Linked DNA regions of Homo sapiens: regions 1, 2, 4 and 5 are each linked to region 3. Evidence: fine-mapped expression QTL. A gene starts in region 3. Each other region holds a variant in brackets. All regions are shown on one strand. Distances are between the middles of the regions.

Region 1 (5,109 bases), 50 kb before region 3:
TTCAGTTCTCTGAGACTCCACTTGCTTTCACTCTGGCTCCTGTTCCTCCTACTTCAGGTAACCATTGCATAATCTAACCCGTAGTCCATCTGTCTGCTTAACTAGCACCCAAACCTGGCCTTCCATAAAAGGGAGTAAGATAAAACTTTCATAAAACTGCCCAATACAGGCAACACTGTCATGCAGGAAATGCTACTGTAATATTTTATGGAAATAGACTTCATTAAGATGCTCAATAACTGCATTACATCCAATTTAGAATTGGTGGTAGTTGTCACGTTTTTGTTTTTGTTTTTGTGTTTGTTTTTGTTTTTGTTTTTGAGACAGGGTCTCTTTCTCTCACCCAGGCTGGAGTACAGTAGTACAAACATAGCTAATTGTAGCCTTGACGTCCTGGGCTCAAGTGATCCTCCTGCCTCAGCCTCCTGTGTAGCTGGGATTACAGGTGCATGCCACCATGTCTGGCTAATTTTTTAAATTTTTTTGTAGAGACAGGGTCTCACTTTGTTGCCCAGGCTGGTCTTGAACTCCTGAGCTCAAGAGATCCTCCCACCTCAGCCCTAAAGTGCTAGGATTACAGGTGTTAGCCACTGTGCCAGGCCATGTTTTTGTTGTGGAATGGTAATATTATTATGGATTTTATATGCTTTAAGGCTGTGTGAGCAGATGCACGCTTAGTTCAGATTTACGCCATATAACATGCATTATTGCAAAATAGTAGCTGAAGTTGGTAATTTTTTTCTTACTGGTCTTCAATGGGCCCATTTTTGGTGCAACCCTGGTCAGAGAATATATGGGAATGTTGTTTCGCATAGACTTGGGGTCATATGTAGTTTGCAAGGGAGAGTTTCTTATTTGTCTCTTACCCACCCCTCATTCCCGTGGTTGGTTTTCTTTCACCATTTTTATACACTACTTTCCTGACCATTACTTCCACCTCCTAAGTCTAGCGTGAGTACTTTTCATCTCTGCTACTGTGATAGGTTACCCTGAGTTGTTAACATGTAGCCAATAATAAATGATGACATTCCCGACATTTTCACAAGGAATAAAACAATGTATATAGGTGTACATGTCAATTTTTGATGTCCAAACTCATTTCATGCTTTTTCTAACCTTTATTTTTTGCCATTATTTCTAACATCTATTTCTGGGCAAAGTTTTCTAGATGAAAACTTCCTGATTTGTTGACATTTTCTGGTTGAATAACTGCCAGATTCTCATTTGGCCTTTATGCTTCATTCAGCTCCAAGTGGATAAACACTAACAAGGAAAGAAAACAGATATTCAGAACCAGCCTAACTAACATACGGGTTTTTTTTTTCCTACTCTGCCAATGTCACTAGTATTATTGCAGCTTCAATTAATAAATGTGGATTGTTGCAGCCAAAACACAATTATTATTTTTCCAGCAATTGTATTAAAACAGTATTAAAATGATTATTCAGGTACCCAACTCTTTAAGGACAGATGGGATTCTATATAACTGTCTGAAAAGCTAATTTGGCAAAATGATATTTGTTATTTTAATTACAGAATTGGAGAGGTATTACCATGGAAAACAAATTCTCCATTTGGCTGAGTCCAGAGCTTTCAAGAAGGAAAAGATTGCTATGGTGATCATTATTGTGGTTTGCTGGCTATCGTCAGATAATAGCATTCCAGATGAGCAAGGCACCTAGTGATCAGCAATTTTTGCCTTCGGTTTTTGAACATTTGGGCAGACCTTAGCAATGCCTTCTCTACTCCATGATCTGCTCTTTCATTATTTCTTTCTATTGCAGAATCCTGTTTTGCCTGAGTATGTCCAGGTTCTTCACAGAATTCTCCTACCTTTTATACTTTTTAAATGTTAAAAATTAAAAATATTAAAAAATAATAAATAAAATAAAATATGTTAATGGACCTGAACAGATAGGTGACTAATACATGTTGTATTCCTCCAGCAAATATCTTAACTTCAGATAATGTGTTAGCTCCCTATTTTGTCAATTTTGTAAGTGTGAAGTTTCATTTATTAAGTAATGAATGATATCTACTATGAGTAACATTTCATATATAATAAACCTCACTATTAATATAGAAAGTATGGATTATTAGCAACAGTATATTAATTAATACTCAATTAGCCTGGAGTCTCTCTGAGCCTACTCTGGCTCAGGATGCTGCCTGATAAAAAAAAAAAAAAGAAAGAAAAAACTTCAGCTAGAAGGACTGCAAATATTTTTTAATGTGAAGACCTGTTTTCATCTGAGATGTAAAAGGAAAAGACTGAAATTTTACTGGTTAGTATAATGATCATTGGAAAGTGACAATAATGCTTTCAAAATTATGATTAGATGAGAAATCAAAATGTTTTTAATGTTTTTAAAATAAGGGTTTTTTTTAGA[C/A]GGGCTCTCACTCTGTTGCCCAAGCTGAAGTGCAGTGGCATGATCATGGCTCACTGCAACCTCAACTTTCCGGGCTCAGGTGATCATCCTACCTCAGCCTCCCTAGTAGCTGGGGCTACAGGTATGTGCCATCACACCGGGCTAATTTTTGTGGGTTTTTTTGTTTTGTTTTGTTTTGTTTTTGAGACGGAGTCTCTCACTGTCACTCGGGCTGGAGTGCAATGGTGCGATCTCGGCTCACTACAACCTCTGCCTCCCAGGTTCAAGCAATTCTCCTTGCCTCAGCCTCCCAAGTAGCTGGGTTTACAGGCGTCCACCACCACGCCCAGCTAATTTTTTTGTATTTTTAGTAGAGACGGGGTTTCACTATGTTGGCCAGGCTGGTCTCGAACTCCTGACCTTGTGATCTGTCTGCCTCAGCCTCCCAAAGTGCTGGGATTACAGGTGTGAGCCACTGCACCCAGCCAATTTTTGTATTTTTTTTTTTAGATGGGGTTTTACCATGTTGGTTAGCCTGGTCTTGAACTCCTGGATTGAAGCAATCCTCCCACCTCACCCTCCCAAAGTGCTAGGATTACAGGTATGAGCCATCACACCTGGCCTAAAAATAAGTTCTTGAAGTTAAGCTACAATATGCAATTTGGATGGGAAGTTTCTTGAAATCTAATTTTTTTTTTTTTTTTTGAGACGGAGTCTGGCTCTGTCGCCCAGGCTGGAGTGCAGTGGCGCGATCTCGGCTCACCGCAAGCTCCACCTCCCAGGTTCACGCCATTCTCTGCCTCAGCCTCCTGAGTAGCTGGGACTAGGCGCCTGCCACCACACCCAGCTAATTTTTTGTATTTTTAGTAGAGACGGGGTTTCTCCGTGTTAGCCAGGACGGTCTTGATCTCCTGACCTCGTGATACACCCGCCTCGGCCTCCCAAAGTGCTGGGATTACAGGCGTGAGCCACCGCGCCCAGCCTTGAAATCTAATTTTAATTAATGTTTTGTCATCACTATATTTTGTGATCAAATGAAATAATTGATGTGGCCGGGCATAGTTACACACACGTGTAATCCCAGCTACAGTGAGGCTGAGTGAGCTATGATTGTGCCACTGAACTCCAGCCTGGGCAACAGAGCCAGACCTTGTCTCTAAAAATAATAATAATAATAATTGATTACTACTAATAAATATGTAACTGACAGTTTTTTGCTTCTTTAATAACTATATCATATTATCAGCTCTCACAAAGAACAATTACTTTCATTACATTGTTTTCTTTTCAAATGTCTTTATAAAACGGGTTCTCTAAAGCTATAAATGAATAAATAATTTTAAGCCAGGTCTTCTTTCTTAACTCAGGTATGTTCTTTTTAGAACTTCCTTTGAAGGGATGACAGGCCAAAAGATGGAAATGGGAAGCAATAGAGGGAAATCAAAATTTCACTGCTGCTATTTAACATTATTGTGAAGTCAATTCACCAACTTCAAAAGAACAGTGATAGGAACTGGCAAAAAAAAAAGAGATCAGACAGAATAAGTAAACAGAGGTTTGAATGAAAGACTGAGAAACTTGGATTTAATTCTACAAGTAAAAGGAAGTCAGTGAGAGTTTCTGACCAGAGAACTGACAAAATAAAAAAATTATTTTTGCAAAGATTAATCTGCAACTCTGTCATGAATAAACAGGAGTCAAGAGATGGAAAACAAAATTAATATAGGAATCTGATTATAGTTATTCTAGCCAGAGGTCCTGAACACCTGGAGTAAAGTGGTTATTATGCAGAAGGCAGATAGTATTTAAGGAATGTTATAAAGAAGGAATGGGCAAAGCTTTTGGACTGATTGATATGGGTAACAAATGATAGGGACAGATAAAAAGGACTCCCTGATTCTGGGCTTATTAGGGTAGCAAAGTCAACAAATATTTTTTATGTAAGGACATCTTTTTGAGAAATTCATAGCCACCTACAAGATCATAGTCGTAATTTAAAAATCCAATGATGGAGAAAAATATTTAACAAATAATTGCTATTAACTCAATAATGCTTTTAGATGAATATATATTTATAAATAACATCCGCTATATGTCTGTTCACACTGTGCACTGTTTGACTCTTCTGCATATTGACACTGATATAAATGTCAATTATAGCACAACCTAGAGTTGTGCAGTATACAACCTACCCTACTGTACACAGTAGTCATGGACTGTAGCATCTATATATCTCTGAAAACAGTTGAGCAAAACTTATGGAAACCCCACTTATTCAGTCCTCAGATATTATCTAGTTCAAGATGACTTCAGGGATGTTTTCTAAAGACTCTATAATTCACAAGGGACAGTCATCTATATATCAGATAACAATAAGAGGAGGAAAAACAAGAGGACTATATTGCTGTGAACAGTGATGGGAAAGTTCATAGAAAGAAGAGTTCTTCTTCCTTACAAAATCCCTGAGCCTCTCTGCTTTCTAAGATAAAGTAGGGGCTAAGAATGATCTACTCTACTATATTAGTTTCCTAGGGTTGCTGTAACATTACCACAAACCTTGTGGCTTAAAACAACATAAATTTATTTTCTTACAGTTTTGGAGGCTAGAATTCCAAAACCAAGGTGTCAACAGGCCATGTCTTTTCTGGAGGTTCTAGGGAAGAACCCTTGCTTGCCTCTCCCAGCTTCTGGTGACTTTCAGCAATCCATGGCATTCTTTGGCTTGTAGCTGCATCACTCC
Region 2 (5,109 bases), 77 kb before region 3:
TCCATCTCAAAAAAAAATTATATATATTCATTAACATATAATATTCAACTTTCTACTTCTCATCTTCATTTATATATTGAATTAGCCATATATTTATTATATCTAAAACCCATAATTTTCCTCCTTAAGCCACCAGCTTCACCCATACTCTGCTCCATCTCAGTTTTAGCCAGTCCATTATTTTTGTTGCTCAGACTAAAAACAGTAGACAGGTTCCTAATTCCTCTATATTTTTCATATATCACATGCAATTTATCAGCAAATCCTAGTGGATATACCTTCAAAATGTATCCAGAATCTGACCACTTCTCCTCATCTCCTTTCCTACCACTATGGTCCAAGACACTGTCATGTACTAGGATGTTATTGCAATGGTGTCCAAGGCTCCCTCTGGTTCTATCTTTAGTCCTTGTAGCATAAACTTATAGGCCTCCAACCAATTTGTTTCTCTTTTTTTCTTTTTTAATTTTTTTCTTTTTTTTTTTTTGAGGCAGAATCTCATTCTGTCACCCAGGCTGGAGTGCGGTGGTGCGATCTTGCCTCACTGCAACCTCCTCCTCCCAAGTTTAAGCTATTCTCCTACCTCAGCCTCCTGAGTAGCTGGGACTACAGGCACGTGCCACCATGCCCAGCTAATTTTGTGTATTTTTAGTAGAGGCAGGGTTTCACCATGTTAGCCAAGATGATCTCGATCTCCTGTCCTTGTGATCTGCCCGCCTCGGCCTCCCAAAGTGCTGGGATTACAGGTGTGAGCTACCACACCCGGCCCTTTTTTTTTTTTTTCTTAAAAAAAACTTAGGCTGTACACATGGTCATCACCTCTTCCCCCATTAGGGACTGTATTTTCAGTCTCACTTGAAGCAAGTTGTGGCTATATGATTAAGAAGGATGGGATGTGAGCAGAGGTGAAGTGTGCAACTTTTGGTTCATCTCTAATGTAAAAAACAAGCCATTTGTCCTAGAAATTCTCTCTTCCTCTTTTCTGCAAGATGTCATGATCCTGTGAACACAAGCAAGATAAAAACATGATTGAAAGGATAGGGAACAACAAAACATGTAATCTGGTCCCTGACTGACCACATGGAACAGAACCACACTACCAACATCCCAAGAAGTAAACCTTATTCAAGCCTCTGTAATTTGGCAGGTCTCTTTGTTTCAGCATAACTACTGCCATGACCCCAATACACTCCTCTGTATTTATTCTCAAAACAGTAGTTTATATGATTCTAGTTGAATCATGTTAGTTGAATCATGTTATTTCTCTATGCAAAATTCTTGAATGACCATTCAGCTTATTCAGAATAAAAGCCAAGGTCTTAACTAGGTCCCAGGCAATCTTGTCCTCCCAGGTCTGTTTGGCCAGTTTCTGTTCATATTCTCCCATTCCGCTGTAGCCATAGGGGTCTGTTTGGCACTCTTTGAAGGTGCCAGGCACTCTCCCATCCCATCACAGCTCCTTTGCAGTTGCCGTTCTCTCTGCCGGAAACTCTCTTTGTCTAGAAATCCACAAAGATAACTCCCTTACCAACTCTGAGTTTTTCCTCAAACATTATTTTCTCAGTGGACCTTCCCTGACCAACCAACACTTGCACACTCCATGTCTTTCCTGTCTTCCTGTTCTCTGTAGCCCCTATTGCTTTCTAATATATACTATAACTTACTTATGATATAATTTATTTATGTAATATTACTTTCCCTTCAAAAGTAAGCTGTATGAAGGCAAAATAATTGATTATGTTTACTGATAATGTTTCTGACACATGGAAAATGAATAATAAATGTTTTCTGAATAAACATGTCAATAGGAATGCTTTTGTCTACAAATAAAAAAAATTAACAGAAGCTTAAAGCATATAAATACACTTATTGTTTTTTGTTTTTGTTTTTGTTTGAGACAGAGCTTCACTCTTGTTGCCCAGACTGGAGTGCAATGGCTCGATCTTGGCTCACCACAACCTCTGACTCCCGGGTTCAAGCGGTTCTCCTGCCTCAGCCTCCCGAGTAGCTGAGATTACAGGCATGGGCCACCATGCTGGGCTAATTTTGTATTTTTAGTAGAAACGGGGTTTCTTCATGTTGGTCAGGCTGGTCTTGAACTCCCAACCTCAGGTGATCTGCCCACCTTGGCCTCCCAAAGTTCTGGGATTACAGGCATGAGCCACTGCGCCTGCCCCACTTATTGTTTATGTTACAAGAAAACCTGGTTAGTGTCACAGATTGTCTACATTAGGTCATCACTACAGTGCCAATAATATTTCTCTTTATTTTCACAAGATGGCTGCTGTAGCTCCAAACAGTACGTCTTCATACAATACAACCTCAAGAAATTGAAGGAGGGAAAAAAAATGCTCTCACATGTCTTTTTTCAGGATGGTAAATCTTTCCCAGATGTCTTCCAGTAGACTTCCTCTTAGGTCTCATTGACCAGAGTGGCATTACACTGTCATTTCTAGACAAATTACTGGCAAGAGAGAA[A/T]GGATAGCTATAATTTTTATATACACCAATCAAGATTTATCCCAGGGGCTGAACAAAATGCTATCTAAACAAAATTAGAATTCTGTTAACATAAATGTAGGAGACATGGTTGTTGGGTTGGCAGCCAAGAGTCTGCCTGAATGACATACAAATGAATATTGTTTATTGCAAAATTATAATTATATAATAAGGTTACCTTTTATAATAGGAATTATTTGAAGGTTATCTTTTAATGTTTAATGTAATTAAATAGGAAAAAGCACTCCAGAATGATAGTGTATCAGTTAAGATTGCTTTTAATTGCATGTAACAGAAACCAGATTAAAATTTAAATGCTTAATCAGAAAGGTTTTTTTCCTTATAACAAGAATTTCCACTGTAGGCAGTTCAGGACTGATCAAAGGGCTTCATGATGCCATGAGGGACTCAGGCTTCATTATGCCAGACTGCATGCAATTTTTGTCTTTTGGGCCAAAAAAAAATGACTGCACTCCTAGCATATTTGCACACTATGTAGACAAGAGGTGGTTGCTAGGCAAGTCAGCCGCCTTCCCAATAGCGCGTACTCAGTGATTCCTGCTTGCATCTCCTTGGCCAGAACTGGTTCTCAGGGCCATTGCTTGTCTGGGGAGGTAAGTATTTTAGCTAGATCCAAACAAAAATTTGGATCTGTTATTAAGAAATAAGAAGAGAATGGATATTTGATAGGCAAGTAGTGTCTACAATTTATGTTTACCAAATATATTAACTGTGACTACCATTGAGTGGTGAAATTATAAGTGATTCTTGTATCTTATTATATTGCCTGAGTTGTTTTCAAAATGTATGTTCTTTTTTAAAAAAAATTTGGAAATAAGCATAATAAAGCTATTTCGATTTGGCAGGGGAAAGTAGAAAGTTTAGAGATTTTTTCCTATAGACTGCACCAAAATATTCCTGACCTTAAAATGTCTGCTCCAAATGATCATGTCAAAATATTCTTACCAAATATATAACTTTGGACATATACTCTCAGAGCCTCAGTTAACTTGTCAATAAAATAAGGACATTATAACTACTCCCAAAGTTATTGTAAAGTTTAAATGAGATAATGTATATAAAATATTTAGCACAAATGCTCACTATATGGTAGCTTTTATTAATAGTACTTAAGATCGAGTGTAGTGGCTTACAGTACTACCCGCACTTTAAGAAGCCGAGGTGGCAGGATCACTTGAGCTCAGGAGTTTGCGACCAGCCGAGGCAACATACTGGGACTTCATCTCCACTAAAAATAAAAAAAAAATTAGCCAGGTGTAGTGGCACATACCTGTAGTCCTAGCTACTCAGGAGGCTGAGGTGGGAGAATCACTTGAGCCCAGGAGGTCAAGATGGCAGTGACCTGTAATCGCACCACTGCACTCCAGCCTGGACGACAGAGCAAGACCCTGTCTCACTAAATAAATAAATAAATACATAAATACATAAATAAATAGTACTTAGATACATGGTAGTTGTAAAATAGTCTTTAAATTAACTATATGTTTTATTGACTTTACTTAGCTATATCTGTTATATTAGCTCATCTTTGAGTATTTACTATGTAACAGAAACTGCTAAATATCTTACTTATATTGTCATGTAAACCTCAAAATAATCTATGAAATAGATAAATTATTATCTGTATTATGCAAATGGAAAAAAAAAACTATGGCTTAGGGAGGTTAAGCAAATTGTTCAAGATTATATAAGGCAAAATGTGGCAAAGCTTAAATTTAGAGCTAGGCAGTTTGACACAAATTTTTCATTCTTAACCAATCTCCTACAACATGAATCTGAAAGTCCTCTATTTTAACATCATGAAAAATCATTAGCCTGCTTATAAATCAATTCGTCTAAGAAATTACTTTGGCTATTTTAATTTGCAAGTCTAGCAGAAAGAACTGTAGAATCAGCCGAAACACATCCAGAAATTCAAACCTTGTCATTGCAGCTTTTATTAATGATGGCACCCCGGTTAATAGTTCTGCTTTAAACAATTTTTATAAATTCTCAAATAGTATGGATTCATACATTTTATAAAAATATATACAAATGCAAAATTTTCAAGTTAATTCATTTACTAATTACAATTTGGCTAAATCAGTCTAGAAAACTAACAATGCTATGAAAAAAGTCAAGTAATCCATAACAAAAGAGCAATATAAATAGACACTCTTTCTCAGTTATTGTACTGGAATAACTAGTTGTATTAACTGCTTGCATGACTTCATTCTTAAGTATAAAATTAATAAAATGAGAGAAGAATAAAAAATAATGAGGTTTTAGTTTAAAAAATACTAATTGAAATCATTAGACAAATGATTTATAAGTTATCTTAGCTGAATCTAAAAGAAATATATTTCTCAGCAAAATACAATTCAGACAATTTTATAGCAAGTATCTCTCTAAGGTTACTGCAATTTACCAACACAAATAAATTGAGTTCTGTAAAAGTTAATGACTGTCTGATACTTCCTGCTGGCTAGAAGAAAAGGCAGAATACAGGAGCAAATATATTACAAAAAATGATTTTTAAAAAATGCTTATGAGGTACAGCGGTATGCAGAAGAGTGAAAGATTATGTGCAGGAGTCAATCAGAAAAGCTTTAC
Region 3 (5,109 bases):
ATTACAGGCGTGAGCCACTGTGCCTGGCCCTGGCTAATTTTTTGTATTTTTAGTTAGAGATGGGGTTTCGTCATGTTGGCCAGGCTGGCCCTATTCATATGTAGAAGTCCTAACCCTTAGTCCCTTAGAATGTGACCTGATTTGGAAATAGGGTCATTGCAGATATAATTAACGTCCATGAGGTCATACTGGAGGATGGTTCGCCCCTAATCCGTTATGACTGCTGTTCTTATTAAAAAGGGAAATTTGAACACACAAGCACACTGGGAGAACAGCCATGTTCAGATTGGAGTTACGCTACCATATGCCAAGAAACTACCAGAAGCTAGGAGAGGCATGGACGAGATCCCTCCCCAGTGCCCTCAGAGGGAGTACAGCCCTGCCTACACCTTGATTTCAAACTTCTGGCCTCCAGAATTGTGAGATAATAATTTGTTGTTTTAAGTCACCCAATTTGTGGTATGTTACGGCAGCCCTAGGGAACTAATGTAGTGCGATTATTTTAAGAGGCAAACAAGAAGAACATCCTAAGAGTGAGGTGCCTGATAGTCTCATGCATCAGAAAAGTCCCATATATTTGACTTCAGCAGTTAAATTGTATTTTCCTGTTTTACCAAACCTTTTTAATTATCGTTTCTTGCTGTAGAAAAATCACATAAAATCTGCTCTTTGCTTAACAAATTACAGGGTCGCTTCTGATTTGTGTGCTCGAAATACTAGTCACCAAGCAGAAACTGATGACTGTGAGAATAGGCGACTAATTAACAAACAAACAAAAAAAGCCCTTTCTCAACATTGGATTGACCGAGTGAAAGTTGACAGGGGAAAGACACCTCGATTCAGCCATCTTTCTCCAACAGGTTGTACTGCTGACTGCACAGTGTCCCCTGAAGGACTCCGGTCGCTGTAGCCTTGGAGAGCGACCAGATTCCTCACCCCACTCAGGAGGAGCCAGGGCAAGATTAGGGTGCAGAGAAATCGGTTTCCTCCAGCCTCCTACCCCAGGGAAGAGGACCGAAGCCAGCCCCGGCCTCACGTGCATGCCCAGTCGGGAGGACGCCCTCAGTGGGAGAGCCCTGCTCAGGTTCTCCCCGAGGCCGAGGTGGTGGTGGGAGCGGGCGGTGGCCCCGGGATCAAAGGACCTCCGCCGGGTTAGCTTTGGCAGTGCCGCAGCCAACCCAGCAGGACGCTTATTTTCAAGCCTGGGGAACGTAGTTCCTCCCGCTTTCACAGCAGGATGGAGCCCGACGGCACCCCGGTTAAAGGGCCTTTCCAGAGCCCTCCGGGGAACGGAAGGCCGCGCTCCTCCGGGAGGGAGAACGACACACTCTTCGAGGAAATCCTGGGGCGGGCGCTCTCCTCGCTGCCGGGACCTTTGTTTCTAAGCTGGCCACAGCTAGAGCAGCCTTAAGTGTCCCAATGACACGCCTGCTATCGAGCGCCCTCCCGGCGGCCCCTCCTCAGCCAGCTGCCCAGCGGGCGTCCTCAGGTGTCCCCAAGAGGCGCAGGCCTAGTCGCCTACACGTCCTTTCCAACTTCGTCAGCTCTGGCTTCCCACCACCCCTCCCGGCTCTGCGGCGGCCCAGCCTCTTCTCCGGTTAATTCCGGCCTGTGCGGCCCGGTCGTCCCGTAAAGAAGGCAAGCCCGGGTTCCGGGTGAGGGGTTGGTGGGTCAGGGTGGGAAAGCAAGGCAGCGGTGAGTCCTCTGCTAGCAGATCGGGCTCAATATCCCCATTCCCTGTTTTCTCCGGGCCCGCCCTCCGCCTCTCAGGCGGCCGCCATGAAGATCCTCTGCCGCGGCTGCAGCCGGTCTGCAAACACACGCCCACCCGCACGCTTAGCCTCGCTCGCCACAGAGGGAGGGGTGGAAAAGGCACTGAGCATGCTCGGTGGGGAGGGCGGGGCGCTCGTGGGCTGCGAGTCGGGGCCGGAGCTCTTCAGGCCGGCTCCCGCGCCTCCGCCGCCCGCCCGCTCGGAGCCGCGCCCGCCGCAGGCTGCGCCCGCCAGTCCCGCCCCGCCCCGCCCCGCCCCGCCCCCCGCCGCTCGTCCCCGCCGCGGCCGCGCCGCCTGCAGCAGCACCAGCTGCTCCTCCCCGGCGGCCGCCCCCCGCGGGTCCCTCCCTGGCTGCGGGAGAGACGGAGGTAGAGGGAGGACACAGAGCCGCGCCGCCCGCACCACAGACCTTCGCCTCGCCCCGCCGGTTCCTCACCCTCGGGGAGCAACATGGGTAAGTCATCCTTCCTCCGCCGTCATCGCCTGACATTTTTTTCTTTCTCGGCGTGCTGCAGGGTGGGAAGCATTTCTCGCGCAAAGTTGCCGGATTTCTCCAGTCCCCGGGTGTGAGACGGTGGCTGTTCCTCCGGGGAGAGTCGGCGCACGCGGAACGCACGCCGGGTGCCGGGGCTGGGAGGGTCCCGAGCGCGGGCTGGGGTGGGGTCGGCCGCGGGCCGGACCGCCGCCCGGCTCCCCGGCACCTCGCAGCCTCGCCTCCCCTCCTCCATTCTTCCTGCCGGTGCCCGGGCACCACGGAGCCTGCCTCGCGGGCTCGCATCTGCAGCTCCATCCCCGTTTCTCCAGAGGCCGCCCGCTTCCTTTTCCCCCGCGTGTACTGAGCTCGAGGCTCGGGTCCGACCACTACCACTTCGTGTAACTTCCTTCTCTGTCAGTGCGACCTTTCCCCGTCGTGGAGACTCCTCATCCCGGGCGGGGAAGTGGAAGCAAGTAGTTTGTGAGGGAGATCTTACAACCTGCACGGAAATTATTTTCCAAGGGGGAGAGCGGACAGCCTCATAGGTTGAAAGGATGACTTGTCAGAGGCCACGAGGAACGTGAGGCAGGATAGAGCCGCTAGCTGTTGAATTAGTGCTGGGTGACTACAGTGTGCAATATTCCCGTGCCCAGCCTATTTTCTGGATTCCTTCGTCCGTCTTCTGTAGCAGGAAACTGCGCCCTGTAACGTTGTTACCGAACTTACATGGTAGTTATTCTTTCCCAGCTTCCTCCTGTCTAATCTGCATAATCTGATTTTAGTTCCTTTGTATTTATAGTTAATCTGAAGAGATTGGTTTGGATGAGAGATTTAAGAGCAAATATGTTTTATAAAACGATATATACATTTGACCTAATTTTTTTACATCATCTATTGCTTAACTGTTACATTCAGTAATCACAGAAACGTCTGATGAATGCTGTCATGTAATTAAGAGCTCAAAGTTTCTTTTAATAGTAGCGACTTGTACTAAGTTCCCCAGTTTGCTTCCACTCCTGTCTGTCATAATTTCCTCTTTTTAAAATTTGCTCCCTTGGCATCTGTCAGCTGGGACTTTTCCCACCCCTTCTGTGCGAGTTATTTAAAGCTTGAGATGAATGTGGTCCTTTCATCTGTTAATACAGTGCTCAACACGTTCAGAGTTAGGTGGTGCAACTCAGAATCTTCAAGAAGTATCTAAACCTGGGAATGGTGTCCATAGAGTTTTCTGGAACAGCAAATGCTTCAGGCTTTGATCCCGACCTTTGGCCATATATCTGGAAGAGGCCAGGGTTGACGGAGGAGGTGGTATGAATCAAAAAAGGTCTAGGGCTCTGAATTTTATTTTCAGTTGTTTTTTCTTTTTAACGTGAGTACTCGATATGCTGAACAAATTTCTGTAAAAATTGGGTGGCCCATTTATGCGTGTCTGCCTTTCTCTTAAAGTAGATTTTTAAATAGGTATTATATCAGATTATTGGACAAGCTGTATATTTCCGTCGAACATACACACGTTTATGTGTGTTCCCTTTGAACATACACAGATAAAATACACTTTGAAATAAAATTCCTTTGAACATACATACACAGATAAGTGTGTGTATGTTCAAAGGAAATATACAGTATGTCCAATAACCCTATCTGATATTGGACTGTAAGTTCAAGTTTGGCTTGCAAAATATATTTTCCCATGTTTCCAGGTGAGCCTTAAACAATCCATTTAACATTTTAGCTTACATGTTAAATCCGTACTTTTTCAGTGGAAAAAATCCAATTCCGTTACAACACTGGTGAATAAAAATACCTAAAAGAAATTATCTACTTAAAAATAATCTTCAAAATCTTGAGTGCTATTGCTTGATTTTTAAAAAGGGCCAAATAGAAACCTATCTCTCATTTTGAAGCCATCTCTGATACTCTTTGGTTAATCTGTCTCTTCATAAGCACTGTTTGTACCTTGTTAGAAGCTTTTTAGCACTTACGTAATCTACCATATAATAAAGTTGTTTATGTGTGTGCTGTGCATTTAATCATGAGTCCCAGAAGATGAAAAGTGTCTTATTATTTTTTGTGTTCCCCACAGTGCTTTTCAAATAGAAATTCAGTAAATCTTTGGCAAATTGTTGAACTTAAAGCCACCTATTATTTTCAACTTTTGAACCTGAAGATATAGTCTTCATCTGAACAAACATTTGGGTTGGTACATATTATCTAGTTGGGGGATAAGCAGAAACAGAAAGGTATAATTGTACCATGCCTCCCAGTACACTGTAGGTTGGTTTTGAGTCAACCTCAGGCAATCTGTTTCCTTCTAAACTCTCTTCAATGGTAAGGCAGTTTCATGTATGATCAGTAGGTACATATGATAATTTAAAATTGAAACCTTGGGGAACAGTTTTATATCTGGGCCAAGGAAGTTAGTATAACAATTCATGTACACATAAGAAGGTAGAAGGTATACTGGTTAATGATGAGGGGAGGGAGAAGTGCTTTTTAATTTGTCTCAAGAAATAAATAAGGTTGATTTTTAAAGATAGTCTCAGCCGGGCGCGCACTTTGGGAGGCCGAGGCGGGCGGATCACCTGAGGTCAGGAGTTGGAGACCAGCCTGACTAACATGGTAAAACCCTGTCTCTACTAAAAATACAAAAAAACAATTAGCCGGGTGTGGTGGCGGGCGCCTGTAATCCCAGCTGTTTGGGAGGCTGAGGCAGGAGAATCACTTGAACCCGGGAGGCGGAGTTTGCAGTGAGCCGAGATCATGCCATTGCACTCCAGCCTGGGCAACAAGAGGGAAACTCTGTCTCAAAAAAAATATATATATATATTCTCATGGCAATAATTTCCTACACAAGAGAGTGAA
Region 4 (5,109 bases), 750 kb before region 3:
TGTGGTTAGTCTGTGTCATGACCTGTCCCCATGTTGAAGCTATATAGGAGCCCACTATGAGTCACCTTATTTCTATCATTCAGGAAATTCCAGAGGTTTGTGAAGGAACCTGGAACAAAGACCAGGCAAATTCTTTATTATGCCATAGTAACCAATACAGCAAATACATCCATAAGGGTATAGGAAATCCAAACAAAATAATTTATGAAATAGGCATGACTGAAATATTGAGAATACTGAATTGGTCTATTTAAAAAAAGATACACACTATTTTCAGGTGTACATGGAACATTCACCAGAGTTTACCATATATTGGTTCATGACAGATAATGGACACATGACACATCTATGGCACATTTCATACTACAAAAATTATTCAAAATATGGTTATTCACTATCTTTGAATATAGAAATCAATCAATAAAAAATAACTAGACTCTTTTCCTCAAATGTTTTGAAATTAAGCAATACATTTCAATATATGTACAGGTAAAAAAATCAGAATGCAAATTAGATAACATTTTGGATTGAATGAGAATAAAAATGCAACATACCATATCAACAAATATTAATTATTAATTCAGTATTACTGTGTTATTCAAAATAGTTTATTATTCACCATTTCATTAACTTAATAAAAAGTATGTTTAGAATTATAACGACATAATGATGTTATCAAAATAAGTAGAATTTGTTTGAACAAAAAATAATTTTTATTAATTATAGCATGAAAATACAAAATATAAATCCACGATTATGAACTAAAATTTACCTATTAAAAATAATCAGCACAGAAAATATACTTTAATAGTGCTTTATACTAGAGGGCCAAAGTATTCTGATTATCTGTAGAGAAGCAAACACTCTAACTACCCATCTCTTGCATCATAAAAATTCTTCCCTTTGCTACACTGTTTTCATTGTCTTTTTAAAATCTGCATAATGTTCTTCTGAGTGAATTAACTGTAATTAATTAACCATTTTCCTATTTTCCTATTGTTGTGTATTTGAGTTCTTTAATGTGTTACCAATGTACTCAGAGCTAAATTCCTGCTCTACAGCATCGCCTTCACTGTTAGGCCCAATCTGGCCCCTACATATTTCTATGGGCTTATGTCTCTCCAGGGTTTCGATTTTGAACCTGGTCCGTTTCTGTCTTTGCACTCCTGACAGTCTGTAGCTCCTTCCCAAAGGTGGAAAAGAATTTGACTTTTTTTTTTTCCCCAGAATTCTTAAGAGGTCAGTGTGGAAACTTCAGATGGAAATTTATATAATACAGCAAGTTTCCATTCAAGGTTTCAAGATAAAACTTTATTCATTGTTATGAGCTTTAGACACCCAATTTATAAAAATGACAACTGACGTTCTAAATTTCAATTAGGTTCACAAAAATCTTACAAGAAATTGTAATAATGTCTTGCCTTAACATAAACCATAAAGAACAGTGAAGTTTCATTAGCACATTGTTCAGAGAATCATAGAGAAGTTACAAATGAGAAAGAAAAGTGTGATAAAGAATAGCTTAATGAGGATTTGTGGTATACAATATACAAAAATCTAAAAACAAAGCCTTTTTTTAGGTGTTAACACTAGAAAGTTACTCACGGAAATTGATTTTAAATAAAGACAAATATGCACTTTTAATATTATGGAATATAAGGGAAAACAAAAAATACTGACAAGGCTTTCTCTATTTTTGCCACACTTCAAAGAGATGAAAAGAGGCAGCCACTTTGAAGGGGAAAAATAGTGGTTTGTGCTTCAGAATTACAGATAACATCTCATAATAAGGTAATCCGGGTAAAAATGTTATTCAATTGATTATTAGAATTAATTTTCAAAAATTTAAGAACATTGAAACCTTATCAATGACTTTACATATACCATTAAGTGCCTAGTAAGAACAGAACACTCTACTAAGCACCCCCACCAACCCTCCCACCCCTAATCC[G/A]TGGAAAAATTGTCTTCCACGAAACTGACACCTGGTGCCAAAAGATTGGGGACCACTGCTCTAGGCTATAGAGTTTCTAGAGCCGGTATCCCCAGGATTATGTCTGTGATATGTAGAAGGCGAAGTCTACATGTAAATGAATCAATGATTTGAAATTATCTACACACTAGCACACAGATTATTAGAGAATTTAGAATCTGTGTTCCACAGTTTTACTCCTTTGATATGATATGAAGAAGGGTTAACATTACCAGGGTAAGTTGATACATTCTTGTCAGGCTCAATATTGCATCTTTGGCCCTAAATTATATATTGATATGGAGAAAGTGTTTATAGCAAATCATTACAACAAACCATTTTAATTTTTTCTAGCAACAACTGATAAGGGCTTGCATTAGGACAGTAGAAGGAAAAGGAAGTAAAAGTGTGGAACATAAGATTCTAAATTATCTAATAATCTGTGTGGTAGTGTGTAGATAACTGCAAATCATTGATTCATTCACATGTACACTTTACCTTCTATACATCACAGATATAATGCTGGGGTTACTGAACCTAAAACTCTATAGTCTTGAGCAGCAGCCCCCTATCTTTTTGGCACCAGGGACCAGTTTCATGGAAGACAATTTTTCCATGGACTGGGGGTGGGAGAGATGGTTTCAGGATGAAACTGTTCCACCTTGATCATCAGGTATTAGTTAGATTCTCACAAGGAGCACACAACCTAGATCCCTCACATGTGCAGTTCACAATAGGGTTTGTGCCCCTGTATGTTGAAATCTTAAGTATAAACACTAAAAAGGAATACAGGGAAGAATCGATAATATATAGCAATATATAATTAAAGCTGCTGGGCACAGTGGCTCACGCCGGTAATCCCAGTTACTCAGGAGGCTGGGGCGGGAGGATAGCTTGAGCCCAGGAGTTTGAGGCTGTACATCGCTGTGATAATGCCACTGCACTATAGCTTGGGCAACAGAGCAAACTCCCATCTCTAATAATAATAATAGCTAACAAAGGAGAAAAACTGGAATAAAAATATTCAATTAATCCAAAAGAAAGAGAAAAGGGAGGAGTGAAAATGCCAAAGTACATGGAAGAAATAGAAAATGTATAGTAAGATTTAAACACAACTATTTTAGTAATTATGTAAATTCAAAAAGTACTAAAAACTATAATCAAAACAGAGACACTATCAGAATAGGTTTAAAAAGTAAGACCAAAGTACATGCTATTTACAAGAAACATGCTTAAATTATGAAGACACAGAAAAGTGAAAGTAAAAGAACAGAAAAAACTGTACTACAAAATACTAATTAAAATCAAGAGGAATGGTTATGTTAATATCTGATTAAGAAGAATTTATGGTGAAAAAAACTAAAGATAAAAAGCAAGATAATTCATAAGGATACAATAATAATTTCAATAAGAAAGTAAAACAATCCTGAGTTTCTTTGTAACTTATAATAAGTTCCAAAATATATAAAGAAAATTTTAACAGAGGAGTAAGAAGAAATCCATATATTTGCAGTCATAGTAGGAGATTTTAGTATACCTCTCTCAGTAACTGGTAGAATAAACAGAAATAAACAACAACAAAAAAACAGTAACACTTTTGAAGATTTAAACATGATTAACCAACTTTATTTAATTGGTATATATAAAACATCGTTATGCACAATACCTGCAGAATAAAAATTATTTTCAAGCATGTCAAGCATTTATCAAAATGTATTACTTGAGGATCGCTTACCATACATAGATAATAACAAACAAAATAAAAATATATAGAAAACAGAGCAATTATGTAATTAACATAATTAATTTCCTACATAAAAAAAAATGTTTGTGAGCTGGTACGATTTTGCAAGAAAAAAAGGAAGAAAAAAAATTCCTAGTGTAGAGAGATACCTGTGAAAAGCATGCCATATTTGGAGAGCTGCAAGTTCCTTAAAGAGCAGCTGTTACATGTGGAAGGTGGTGAGAGATGAGGCTGGAGGGATAGGTAGTGACTTTACTAGGAAAGGACCTGCATGCTTTGCTGTTTTTTCAACTTTTTTTTCTTATAATCTTGAAATTGTATAAGGAAAATGTAAGAAGTTAACAAGTCATATAAGAAAATTGGACTTGCACTTTGAAAGTTTCAAAATGGCAACAGTTTGAACATTGAATTAGAAGTGTGTAAAACCACAGGTAGTGAGCCCATATAACAGGCCATTATAAAAATCTAGGTGAAAAATAAGGAGATGATAAACTAGAGGATATAAGAATGGTCATATAAAAGATGACACATAGTAAAATTAAAGAACTACCAGGACTACATGATTGGCATCAATAACTAAGATAGGAAAGGTAGGCAATGAGCAAATGAGAGGGTAATTGTGAGAAGCGTTCACTTCAGTTTGGAGCATGCTGTCTTTAAGGTGCCTATGAAATCCCTGACTGTAAATGTTTAGCATGGAATGCATATGTAGCTTGGAAGCACTTGGGAAAGATGTGGTCTGGATCAACAGATTTGGGATATCATAGTAGCTAAAGCTAGGATTGTGTTTGAAGTATGTGAGTGTTAATGAAAAGAAACTGAGAAGAAGGGAGAACAGAGGAGAGAAGAGGAAAGGGAGGGAAAAGAGGAAAATGAATGGAAGAGAAGGGAAAGCAAAAATAAAGAAAAGATAGGGGTGGGAGGAAGAAGAAGGAAGGGGGACGAAAGAGTATCTTCATGGTTTAAAAATATTAGTAATAGCTATCACTTATTGAGGGCTTAGCGTACACCAGACAGTAAAATAATCCTGTGATACAGGAAAATCTAAAATCTTTTTTTCATACTATACTCTCACAATACAGAATAATTCTGTGACTACAGATGTGTGGAGCTTCCCCACAACACACACACCTCATACAATTCTGCAGATGATTCTGCAGCAGACACCAGCTGGATGTCTTCTAGTTCAATTCAATTCTGACACTATCTACCTGGAGAGCATGTCAGATTCCACAGGTTAAGGGCTTAGTCCCACAAGACTGCCCCTACTTCAGATGCTGGTTGCAAGAACAGATTGTGGCCTGTGCTTCTTATTGACTAGCTATCAATTAGGGTTTCCATGACTCCTTTCTTGGATTTGATTAATTTCCAAGAACAGCTCACAGAACTAAGGGAA
Region 5 (5,109 bases), 20 kb after region 3:
GAGAATGGCATGTACCCAGGAGGCAGAGCTTGCAGTGAGCCGAGATCGCACCACTGCACTCCAGCCTGGGCGACAGAGCAAGACTCTGTCTTAAAAACAAACAAACAAACAAACAAAAATAATAATAATAGGGCCACTATATTTTTTCTAAGGAACATTATTATGTCTTAGCATTTTATAATATATGAGTTCTATAACATTTAAAATAACTATATGCAAAAGAATTACATAAATGATATATAATTTTAAAATTTTAAGATAATTACATTTAAAAAATTTTTAAATGATATAAAAAAGTATATAATTTCAGATAACTAGTAAATGATTGTTGGAATTTTTTTTTCATATGGAAAAAAACAGGAATTGAACTTTTTTTTTGTGACCCAGAATAATTTTTTTTGAGATGCAAATTATTTATATATACTTACATGTATACATATATTGCATAATTTATATTTTTGACATTATAAAATATTTTCTGAACTTTAAGTTCTGTACTTTAAGTCCTGGGGTACATGTGCACAACGTACAGGTTTGTTACATAAGTATATATGTGCCATGTTGGTTTGCTGTACCCATCAACTCATCATTTACATTAGGTATTTCTCCTAATGCTATCCCTTCCCCTGTCCCCACCCCATGACAGGCCCCCGTGTGTGATGTTCCCTGCCCTGTGTCCAAGTGTTCTCATTGTTCAGTTCCCACCTATGAGTGAGAACTTGCGGTGTTTGGTTTTCTGTCCTTGTGATAGTTTGCTCAGAATGATGGTTTCCAGCTTCATCCATATCCCTGCAAAGGGCATGAACTCATCCTCTTTTATGGCTGCATAGTAATCCATGGTGTATATGTGCCACATTTTCTTAATCTAGTCTATCATTGGTGGACATTTGGGTTCGTTCCCAGTCTTTGCTATTGTGAATAGTGCCGCAATAAACATACATGTGCATGTGTCTTTATAGTAGCATAATTTATAGTCCTTTGGGTATATACCCAGTAATGGGATTGCTGGGTCAAATGATATTTCTAGTTCTAGATCCTTGAGGAATCGCCACACTGTTTTCCACAATGGTTGAACTAGTTTACAGTCCCACCAACAGTGTAAAAGCATTCTTATTTCTCCACATCCTCTCCAGCATCTGTTATTTCCTGACTTTTTAATGATCGCCATTCTAACTGGTGTGAGATGGTATCTCATTGTGGCATTGATTTGCGTTTCTCTGATGACTAGTGATGATGAGCATTTTTTCATGTGTCTGTTGGCTGCATAAATGTCTTCTTTTGAGAAGTGTCTGTTCATATCCTTTGCCCACTTTTTGATGGGGTTGTTTGTTTTTTTCTTGTAAATTTGTTTAAGTTCTTTGTAGATTCTGGATATTAGCCCTTTGTCAGATGGGTAGATTGCAAAAATTTTCTCCCATTCTGTAGGTTGCCTGTTCACTCTGATGGTAGTTTCTTTTGCTTTGCTGAAGCTCTTTAGTTTAATTAGATCCCATTTGTCAATTTTGGCTTTTGTTGCCATTGCTTTTGGTGTTTTAGTCATGAAGTCCTTGCCCATGCCTATGTCCTGAATGGTATTGTCTCGGTTTTCTTCTAGAGTTTTTATGGTTTTAGGTCTAACATTTAAGTCTTTAATCCATCTTGAATTAATTTTTGTATAAGGTGTAAGGAAGGGATCCAGTTTCAGCTTTCTACATATGGCTAGCCAGTTTTCCCAGCACCGTTTATTAAATAGGGAATCCTTTCCCCATTTCTTGTTTTTCTGAGGTTTGTCAAAGATCAGATGGTTGTAGATGTGTGGTGTTATTTCTGAGGCCTCTGTTCTGTTCCATTGGTCTATATCTCTGTTTTGGTACCAGTACCATGCTGTTTTGGTTACTGTAGCCTTGTAGTATAGTTTGAAGTCAGGTAGCATGATGCCTCCAGCTTTGTTCTTTTTGCATAGGATTGTCTTGGCAATGTGGGCTCTTTTTTGGTTTTATATGAACTTGAAAGTAGTTTTTTCCAATTCTGTGAAGAAAGTCATTGGTAGCTTGATGGGGGGATGGCATTGAATCTATAAATTACTTTGGGCAGTATGGCCATTTTCATGATATTGATTTGTCCTATCCATGAGCATAGAATGTTCTTCCATTTTTTTGTGTCCTCTTTTATTTTGTTGAGCAGCGGTTTGTAGTTCTCCTTGAAGAGGTCGTTCACATCCCTTGTAAGTTGGATTCCTAGGTATTTTATTCTCTTTGAAGCAATTGTGAATGGGAGTTCACTCATGATTTGGCTGTTTGTCTGTTATTGGTGTATAGGAATGCTTGTGATTTTTGCACATTGATTTTGTATCCTGAGACTTTGCTGAAGTTGCTTACCAGCTTAAGGAGATTTTGGGCTGAGATGATGGGGTTTTCTAAATATACAATCATGTCATCTGCAAACAGGGACAATTTGACTTCCTCTTTTCCTAATTGAATACCCTTTATTTCTTTCTCTTGCCTGACTGCCCTGGCGAGAACTTCCAACACTATGCTGAATAGGAGTGGTGAGAGAGGGCATCCCTGTCTTCTGCCATTTTTGAAAGGGAATGCTTCCAGTTTTTGCCCATTCAGTATGATATTGGCCGTGGCTTTGTCATAAATAGCTCTTATTATTTTGAGATACTTTCCATCAATACCTAGTTTATTGAGAGTTTTTAGCATGAAGGGCTGTTGAATTTTGTCAATGGCCTTTTCTGCATCTATTGAATTAATCATGTGGTTTTTGTCATTGGTTCTGTTTATGTGATGAATTACATTTATTGATTTGC[G/A]TGTGTTGAACCAGCCTTGCATCCCAGGGATGAAGCCAAGTTGATCGTGGTAGGTAAGCTTTTTGATGTGCTGCTGGATTCGGTTTGCCAGTATTTTATTGAAGATGTTTGCATCGATGTTCATCAGGGATATTAGTCTAAAATTCTCTTTTTTTGTTGTGTCTCTGTCAGGCTTTGGTATCAGGATGATGCTGGCCTCATAAAATGAGTTAGGGAGGATTCCCTCTTTTTCTATTGATTGGAATAGTTTCAGAAGGAATGGTACCAGCTCCTCTTTGTACCTCTGGTAGAATTCGGCTGTGAATCCGTCTGTCCCTGGACTTTTTTTGGTTGGTAGGCTATTAATTATTGCCTCAATTTCAGAACCTGTTATTGGTCTATTCAGAGATTCAGCTCCTTCCTTGTTTAGTCTTGGGAGGGTGTATGTGTCCAGGAATTTATCCATTTCTTCTAGATTTTCTAGTTTATTTGCGTAGAGGTGTTTATAGTATTCTCTGATGGTAGTTTATATTTCTGTGGGATCGGTGGTGATATCCTCTTTATCATTTTTTAATGTGTCTATTTGATTCTGCTCTCTTTTCTTCTTTATTAGTCTTGCTAGCGGTCTATCAATTTTGTTGATCTTTTCAAAAAACCAGCTCCTGGATTCATTGATTTTTTTTTTTTTTTTGAAGGGTTTTTTATGTCTCTATCTCCTTCGGTTCTGCTCTGATCTTAGTTATCTCTTGCCTTCTGCTAGCTTTTGAATTTGTTTGCTCTTGCTTCTCTAGTTCTTTTAATTGTGATGTTAGAATGTCTATTTTAGATCTTTCCTGCTTTCCCTTGTGGGCATTTAGTGCTATACATTTCCCTCTACACACTGCTTTAAATGTGTCCCAGAGATTCTGGTGTGTTGTGTATTTGTTCTCATTGGTTTCAAAGAACATCTTTATTTCTGCCGTCACTTTGTTATTTACCTAGTAGTCATTCAGGAGCGGGTTGTTCAGTTTCCATGTAGTTGTGTGGTTTTGAGTGAGTTTCTTAATCCTGAGTTCTAATTTGATTGCACTGTGGTCTGAGAGACAGTTTGTTATGATTTTTGTTCTAGGAATTGAACGTTAAAAAAAAATTGCCTTTAAAACGGTGAGAAACACATACCATCAAAGTTTTTTTGACAAGAAATTCATCAGATTTTAAAAACAATTTTTTAACTTTTCTGAAAATTGAAGATTCTTCAAGTAACTTCATGAAAGATGAAACTGATCATTACAAAATGCAAAACTTACATTGATGTAGTTGTGTTTCAGAGAAATAAAAATGTTGATTTGTTTTTAATATTATAAGCTACATTTGGTCTCCAAAATACAGTTAGAGCAAAGAAAAAATAGTATGAGCTGATGATTTTCCTTTAGTTGCAGAAATGCATTTCTGGGGATGGTGATGTGGTGGTAAGCTCTAATAAAAACTGTCCAGTGTGTCATATTTCTGGCTTTTATGTGTTGCATACAAAGCACCATCAGTCAAATGAGCAACACAAGACTACCATATTAGGCATTATAAACAGTGACAAAGTATAAGTAGTGCAAGTAGTCATATTTCTAGTTTTGAAATGCTTAAACTCTAGTAGATAAAGAATAATAGAAAATGAGCGATAAAAAAGGACATAATTTAGATTGTCAAGAGAAAACACAGACCCCTAAGAATTTAATTAAGAGGACAGATTATATTTACTTTTTCAGCCCCTAATACAGCTTCTTGGACATATATAAGTGTTCATTACTTAAAATGATCTGGAACTTTTTCTAGAATTTATTATTTATTCAGTTAAACACTTATTGAAAGCTAAAGTGTGTATTCAGCATTGTACTACCCTTGAGATACTGTGGCAGACTGCTTCCTGGTACATTTCATTGTGATTTTTTTTTTTTTTTTTTTGTTAGTCACTAATTCAGATACATAGACAGTTGTTACCTAGTACAACTAGCTAACGTGTTTGGATTATAAATTCATTTTGGAAGAGCTTACATCTATATAAAGGAAGGTACAGACAGTCCTTTGCACAGTTCTGATTAGCACAATATCTGTGTAACTTTCATGTAACTGAGCAAAGTTCAGCTACCTATACAGAAGGAAGAGCCTGTACTTGCAGACACACGTATATCTGGATTTACCCAACTTTGGCACTTATTCTGGGCAAGTTATTCAGCTTCTGAATTAGCTTTCTCATCTATTACAGTCAGATAATAATATCTATTTCACAAGGGAGTTGGAAATAGTACATAAAGTGATATCCATATAATTTTTAAAAATAATGTTATCTGTAGGGTTTTTTCCCCTTT

Which allele goes with the higher level. Alleles are on the strand shown, and positions count from the first base shown. SD is a standard deviation of normalised expression in the study named. Not every link is listed here.
With allele A in place of G in region 5, the expression in monocytes of the gene that starts at base 2,041 in region 3 is higher (moderate effect, 0.46 SD a copy in CEDAR).

Evidence for each region. PIP is the estimated chance that this variant, and not a neighbour inherited with it, causes the effect.
Region 1: its variant is the best candidate, but not a certain one, in a credible set for the expression of RAP1GDS1 in whole blood (TOPMed, PIP 0.63).
Region 2: its variant is the best candidate, but not a certain one, in a credible set for the expression of RAP1GDS1 in T cells (TOPMed, PIP 0.68).
Region 4: its variant is the best candidate, but not a certain one, in a credible set for the expression of RAP1GDS1 in whole blood (INTERVAL, PIP 0.55).
Region 5: its variant is the best candidate, but not a certain one, in a credible set for the expression of RAP1GDS1 in monocytes (CEDAR, PIP 0.54).

Annotation. Positions count from the first base shown.
Region 1 is chr4:98,209,233-98,214,341 of GRCh38, forward strand. No RefSeq gene overlaps it. Among named protein-coding and RNA genes, the nearest start is that of RAP1GDS1, 50 kb to the right of the region's middle. The variant C/A (reference allele first, on the strand shown) is at 2,391.
Region 2 is chr4:98,182,773-98,187,881 of GRCh38, forward strand. LOC105377340 (a long non-coding RNA gene) reads right to left here. Exons shown (of 4, transcript XR_001741771.2): 2 at 3,651-3,745; 3 at 2,359-2,464. Among named protein-coding and RNA genes, the nearest start is that of STPG2, 42 kb to the left of the region's middle. The variant A/T (reference allele first, on the strand shown) is at 2,479.
Region 3 is chr4:98,259,344-98,264,452 of GRCh38, forward strand. It overlaps RAP1GDS1 (Rap1 GTPase-GDP dissociation stimulator 1), which reads left to right and starts at 2,041. Exons shown (of 15, transcript NM_001100427.2): 1 at 2,041-2,226. The coding sequence starts at 2,223. RefSeq lists enhancers at 1,282-1,581, 1,333-1,895 and silencers at 1,862-2,161, 2,262-2,331.
Region 4 is chr4:97,508,022-97,513,130 of GRCh38, forward strand. It overlaps a transcript of STPG2 not described here. Among named protein-coding and RNA genes, the nearest start is that of STPG2-AS1, 140 kb to the left of the region's middle. The variant G/A (reference allele first, on the strand shown) is at 1,952.
Region 5 is chr4:98,279,132-98,284,240 of GRCh38, forward strand. All of the region lies in intron 1 of RAP1GDS1 (Rap1 GTPase-GDP dissociation stimulator 1), which reads left to right. Among named protein-coding and RNA genes, the nearest start is that of RAP1GDS1, 20 kb to the left of the region's middle. The variant G/A (reference allele first, on the strand shown) is at 2,792.